Linked DNA regions of Homo sapiens: region 1 is reported to be linked to region 2. The links are microRNA targets in miRTarBase. Many come from high-throughput screens and were not tested one by one. Region 2 holds a microRNA gene; the other region holds the end of a gene's coding sequence.

Region 1 (3,098 bases), not on the chromosome of region 2:
TATGTAAGAACTGAGGTAAGTTTGTAAGTGCACAACTAATAAATAAACCTTTTTAAGATAAGGATTTTGTTAGCAGAAATCTCTGGATTTTTTTTTTTAAAGGGACAGCATCTCACTATGTTCCCAAGGTTGGAGTACAGTGTCTATGCACAGGTGCCATCATAGCTCACTGCGGCCTCCAGCTCTTAGGCTCAAGTGATCCTCCTGCCTCAGCCTCCCAAGCAGCTGGGACTACAGGCATGCCACCATGCCCAGCTTGGAAAGTTGCTTTTATACAGAGTAGGATACTTCCCTACTCAGCCAATCCTGGAAATATGCTAAATGGATTAACTTTTCAAAGTACAATTCTTAGATTTGGTGACAATAAAAGCCAAAACTGTCTACTCTAACATGAACTACCACCTGAACTGGGCATGTACAGGAGAGGCAGGAGTGTAACCAATGATTTAGTCTGTGCACATGCTCTTCCTTTTTTTCTGAATACTCTTCCTCCTCTTTGCTAATGGCAAACTCCTACTTATTCTTCAAAACCCAGCTCTGATAGCATCATGCTTCTGCAATGCCTCTGAGCAGCATTACTTGCCCTCTCTTCTGTCCTTTTCCTCCATGCTCTTCTCTGATATGACTGTGAATCCACTTTCTGTTATGTCTCTCCACCAGATCACATTCCGTGATGGCACACACAATTTATCCAAACTCCTGATACACAAGCACTCCTCTTACAGCAGACATTCTGGAAGAAGTGGTTTTCAACCACAGCCCCACCTGAGAAATTACCTGGAGACAGATTTTTAAAAATACTTCTGCCTGGACCTCAGAGATTTATGTAGATGGGAGTGAGGGGAAGAGCTTTTCGTTTTTAAAACTCTAACCAAATAGAAACATTTTAACATGTTGATTGGCAGCCTCATGGGAATCAATCTGACTTAAATGGCAGGGCAGGTAGTGTGATATAAGGCTTCCCTTCCCTAAACTTTGAAGAGTCAAAGATGACAAGGAAAGCCTTAGAACTCAGGTCTACTTTAAATGCAATGACTTTTTTCTTAAATGCCACCATTGAATTAGGTTGACTCCAATAGTTTCCTTTACAAGCAGTTTCCCAGAAGCATTAAACCTAGTCATTGTGGAATGATGAGCAAATAGCCTTCACTTTTGTGGGCTCATCAAACCATGTGTATATACTCCTCATCTCTCAGCAAAAAACAGACGGTTTTCGCCCCCAAACCTAATAGAGCCAATCCTATTAGAAGACATGGCTTGGCTGAGACAATGTCGGAAAGTGTGAGTTACTAATTTTCTTTTAGTGACTGCATTTTTGTCACTATGACACCTAGCTATTGTTTGTCCTTCCCTCTGTCAGGACTGAAGGTTTATGTTTCACTATAAACCCTGGCTTATTACCAAGCAGCACATCCTATGGCTGACCTAGCATGTTTCTTATTCATGTTTACTTACCCTAAGATAGGAAAATTCCCCACCCCTCCTGTCAATATTCCTAAAGATTTTAAGATTATTCCAAGTTGAATTTAAGATGAATCTGGGCCAGCCAAGTCAGTGAAATAAGCAAGGGTCAGAAAATGATTAGAATTCTGTCATTTACTATGTGTAATGGTTTCCTAAGCCTCAATCTCCTTAAGCATAGAGTGCAGTGTTGTGTGAAGTAAATAAAATGTTAATGTACCTTGTAACAGTACCTAGGAAAAAGGTACTTAAAAAAAAATCTGACCCTACCTATCTAGAAGCTAGCCAGAAAATAATCAGCCTGTGGTTCATATGAAAGTTCAAAAAAAATATTTATTTATAAAAAATACAATGGGATAAGTTTATGCTGAGAAATGCAGCAATAAATACAGTTGAAGAAAACAGAGCAACTCTACATTGATACATTGGCACAAACAGGAAGAGCAAATGCATCACCCAGGCCTAAATGTCCACAGGCCACTTTTGTACATGCTCTTTTAGAAACACCACTCTGAAAAGATCTTGTTCGCTAGGTAAGAGAATGAGTACACATATAATCACAAATGCACACTGATCATGACTTTATTTAAAAATTAGCAAACAATACTGTAGAAACATTGATATGTAAATTTCTAAAATGCTGCATCTTAAATTTAGTTGGCAAAGACCACATTTAGCAATAAGCATGAGTTTAGTCTTCCATGTAGAAACCAGATACACTAAACTGTAAAAAAAAAAAAAAAAAAAAAAAGTTTCCTATTGTTTGAAAATACCAGTTTAATATAAGATTGTAAAAATGCATAGATTTTTGCATAAAAGAACTGGCTGTACAAGAGTACTCCCCTTTCACAGTATTCCTTTTTACTTCATATGCGAGTTATTGATTATGCTGTAGGATTTAACTATTACAGCACTAAAAGGCAACTATTGAGGGAAGAGGCAGAAAAAGGAAAAAGGAATGTACGTAAGGCAATTTTTCTTAAAAGTACAATAAGCTTAATAGTGTTTTAGGAAGACAAGATAAAAATTACTCAAGGCTAGCTTGGTTCTCACTGAATAAAAACAAAGGACTAAATACTGAGCTCCTTCTGTGTGGATCTAATAATCAATGCCTTGGTCGCTATATTGGTAATCTCTGGGGTAGTCATCCTGGTACTCGCCATGATACTCATCAGGGTATTCTGCCTGATAATCACTATCACTGATTTCCGAACCATTTGTTCCTGTTCCTTGGCTTCCGTTGTGAATGACAGGTTCTGTAGGAGCAGCACAGTATTTGGGATCATATACTTGCCGCCCAAGCCCATACACACTCATTCCTTTCTGGGAAGCAACTTTGTTGGTACCCATCTGTAGGGAAATTGTCGAGTTGTCCACCGGCTGTAATGTTAGCTTCTGATCATAGATGTCTCTTCTGGTACCTGGTGCTAACATCCCTGCCTGGTATTAGAACATAGTATAAAAGTTAAAACAGCAGCTAGAATCTATTCTTGTGAATAATTTATAAATTATAGAATTCACATTGAATATGAACAGTAATACATGAACTTTCATTTGGTTCAGGGGTAAAGCTAGCTTAACCAAAATATCCTGATACCGAATCACTTCCATGAAGCAATATTCATTGGCTTTTGAGC
Region 2 (3,098 bases):
TAAAAACACTTACGATACTTTACAAGCACACTGCAGAGATTAAATGAGATTAAATATATAAAAGTGCTTTGTCAACTAAAAATTATGCTGTTCTCTTCCCTGGCCATGATATCTGATAAGTAATACACAGATTATGGACTGAAATGATATCCACATTGAGAAAAGGAAAAAAAAAAAGGTCATTCTGCACCAAGATATTTTCTCTCAGTTGTATTTGTTCACTATGTTTTGGACTTTTCAGAATAAAGTTGTTTAAAATACATAAATGAAAAGTAGTACCAAAAATGTTCACATGCAGCATCAAATCTAGTTTTCAGTTTTTCAGAAAACTCAAATGATTTCCCAGATCATCTAGAAGGGTATAAACTACAATTACGCTACAGAAGCAATAGAGAGATCAATGTCAAGGCAATGGTTCTATTTTTAAAATCTCAAAAGATGCCTTCAACACAGTGAAAGTTCAGGAGAATGAAATAAGCACCCAGAAGGGTGTATTCATTTCCACTGAGATTCTGCAGTATCGGTTTTTCTTCATTGTGAGCTTGATTAATTTTGCCAGTACAGTTACAATTAAAATAAGTAAGCAAAATTTGAAACCCTGATTTGACTTTGAAAAGTTAAATTTTCAAGGTTCTTAAGACCTTCAAGGAACTGAACACAAGCAGCAGGGACATCCCGAGGATATGATGATGGCAAGGTACTGAGGAGATATGGAAAGTAACCACGAGATAGAAAAAAAGGACAAAAATAATAAACGGAGGTGAAACTCTCACCAGAAAAAAAAAATCACTACGGAAATGATATCTAAATCTTTCTTACGTTACAAAAGAAATTTGATTAATGGACTTGGAAACCCACCTAATTTCTGGGTCACTATTTGATAAATGATTATTTGATAGCCATGACCAGCTGCTATGTACCATATCTGACACTTGGGACATATCAAAGAATAAATAAACAAAATGTTCTGTCTTCAGAGAGTTTATATTTTTTAATGAGGCCGTACCTACAGTAAGTAGATATGGGGAAATGAAGAGCAGATAAAGTATTGAAACCTGGCCTCAGATTCATCAGGTACCAATATTTTATCTACTCTTCACTCCCCCAAATACAGCCTGCCTTGGGTGCCTGAAACTTCCCCCTCAGGTCACAGTTATTTACCAAGATCACAACAAAGTATCTCCTCTATTGTTCTCCCCTGTGAGACCTGTTCTTTCAACAGGGCACCTACCACACTTCTTGTAGCATGTGAGTTTATTCACAAGACTTTTCTTCTCCTAGGTGTAAGATGCAGTAGGTGCTCAATACTTATTTCTTTTAATAAATCAAGAAAGCTAATAGTAATCTAAGTCTTTGAAAGGATAAACAGCAAGTACACTGCTTTATTTTGCCATTCAGTTAACAGGATAAATAACACTGTCGTTTCCCTAGAACTTTAAACAAATTATTGAGCACTTTAAAGAAATGTCTCCTTTCAAAAATCAAGCTTAGCTACTAAATTATGTGACCTACATAAACAAAAGAAAGGCAGTCTTGCTAGCTAATCTGTCTGCCTCCTTTCTTTCCAGAAAAAAAAACAAAAACAAAAAGAAAACACTCAATTTTTTTCATGATAATCAGTATTATGCCATAAAGACACAGAGACTGATGAGAAATATTTACATAGCTTCCAATTCTGACTACCAAGTAAAATTAGTAATGTGACAGCAAAGAAGTCTTGTAAGTAACACCTTAATCAAACGATTAAAGTGGACATCATCAATAATGAAGCAAGTCAAAATCACGTACCACCTAATCAGATGCAACATGCAGAATATAGCATCCCTTCTGTGATATTCCTGTAAGGATGCAAAACCTGAATCCAATTATGAGGAACAAATGATAAACCCAAATTGAGGGACATTCTATACAACAGGCCGATATCCTTCAACAACATCAAAACAATGAGAATCTAAGAAACACTGAGTAAGTGTTCAAGAAGGAGCCTAAAGACATAGCAAATAAAGGCCACTGATAATTCTGAACTGGATCCTTTCCTTATTAAGGACATTATTAGTGGCTCTCACAAAACTTCATTGAGGTGTAAAACTTAGATGGTAGTAATATATCATTGTTAATTTCCTTATTTTTATGGTTTGTATTGTGATTATGCAGAAAAATGCCCTCATGTGCACAAAATATATATCAATGTTTTGGAGGGTGACAGGGTATCATATAGAAATCTTATTGTCAGATGGTTCTGGTAAAAAAAATAACTTTGAACTGAGTTTGCAAATTTCCTGCAGACTTAATATTGTTTTAAAAATAATGTAGTTGGGGATTGTTATATTACAAAAGAAAAATTAAATAAAAAAAGACAGCTTTCAATTTAACAATTCCACATGAGAAACATGGTTTACTATCAACAAGCATTACCACCAAGTAACAAACACCACCACCTAGAATAAGCCCCTGTAACCAATAATCTTTGTTTCAAAACAACTTATGTGGACTTCTTTTTGTCTCTAAAAGCTTCCCCTTACTCCAAACCCCTCACAGATGCATCCATGGTCTGCAATGGCATGCATATCCAGCATTGCAGACCCTTGCTATTCCCAAATAAACTGTTTTAGAGAAAAAACACACAAAACAAACAAAAACAAATATCCCAGGATTCTGGATGATGCAAACTAAATAAATAAAAGTTTATTGTGGAAAAATCTAGATAATCGATTTTTATTTTTAAATTTAAACTTCCCTCCATCAATTTCAGCATCTAAATAACATAATAAGCTGCAAATTACTTTACAAAAAAAAAAACAAAAAACAAAAAACTAGGTACCGGGAATTGGTAAGTGGTCTATTTTGTAAAAACAATGTAGGGAAATATAAGTTATCAGTCATACTTGAAAATTATAAAGCCATTGCAAAAGACATAGGAATTATATTGTGTGGCAGACTGTATGTTCCCATAAACAGCTAAATTAGTATTTCCAGTCCCACATGTGTTTTCAGAAAGTCCCCATCAAGAGGTGCTACGTCCACACTGTATAAACTTGGGCAGGTAAGCTTTGGCTGACTCGTGACTTCTCTGGTCAACTGATTACAGAAGAAGTAAT

Evidence for each region. Region 2 holds the annotated microRNA hsa-miR-577 (UAGAUAAAAUAUUGGUACCUG, at 1,072-1,092, opposite strand). A microRNA usually pairs through its seed, bases 2 to 8, with sites in the 3' UTR of a target mRNA and lowers its output. Matches are read on the target gene's strand: a 7mer-m8 pairs with bases 2 to 8, a 7mer-A1 pairs with bases 2 to 7 and ends in A, and an 8mer does both.
Region 1: miRTarBase lists CNN3 as a target of hsa-miR-577. Seed matches in the 3' UTR shown: 7mer-m8 at 2,480-2,486.

Annotation. Positions count from the first base shown.
Region 1 is chr1:94,895,183-94,898,280 of GRCh38, forward strand. CNN3 (calponin 3) reads right to left here. Exons shown (of 7, transcript NM_001839.5): 7 at 1,775-2,901. The coding sequence ends at 2,560. It overlaps SLC44A3 (solute carrier family 44 member 3), which reads left to right. Exons shown (of 15, transcript NM_001114106.3): 15 at 1-64. Among named protein-coding and RNA genes, the nearest start is that of CNN3-DT, 30 kb to the right of the region's middle.
Region 2 is chr4:114,654,768-114,657,865 of GRCh38, reverse strand. It overlaps MIR577 (microRNA 577), which reads right to left and starts at 1,107; the gene lies at 1,012-1,107. The region is part of intron 2 of UGT8 (UDP glycosyltransferase 8); the gene reads right to left.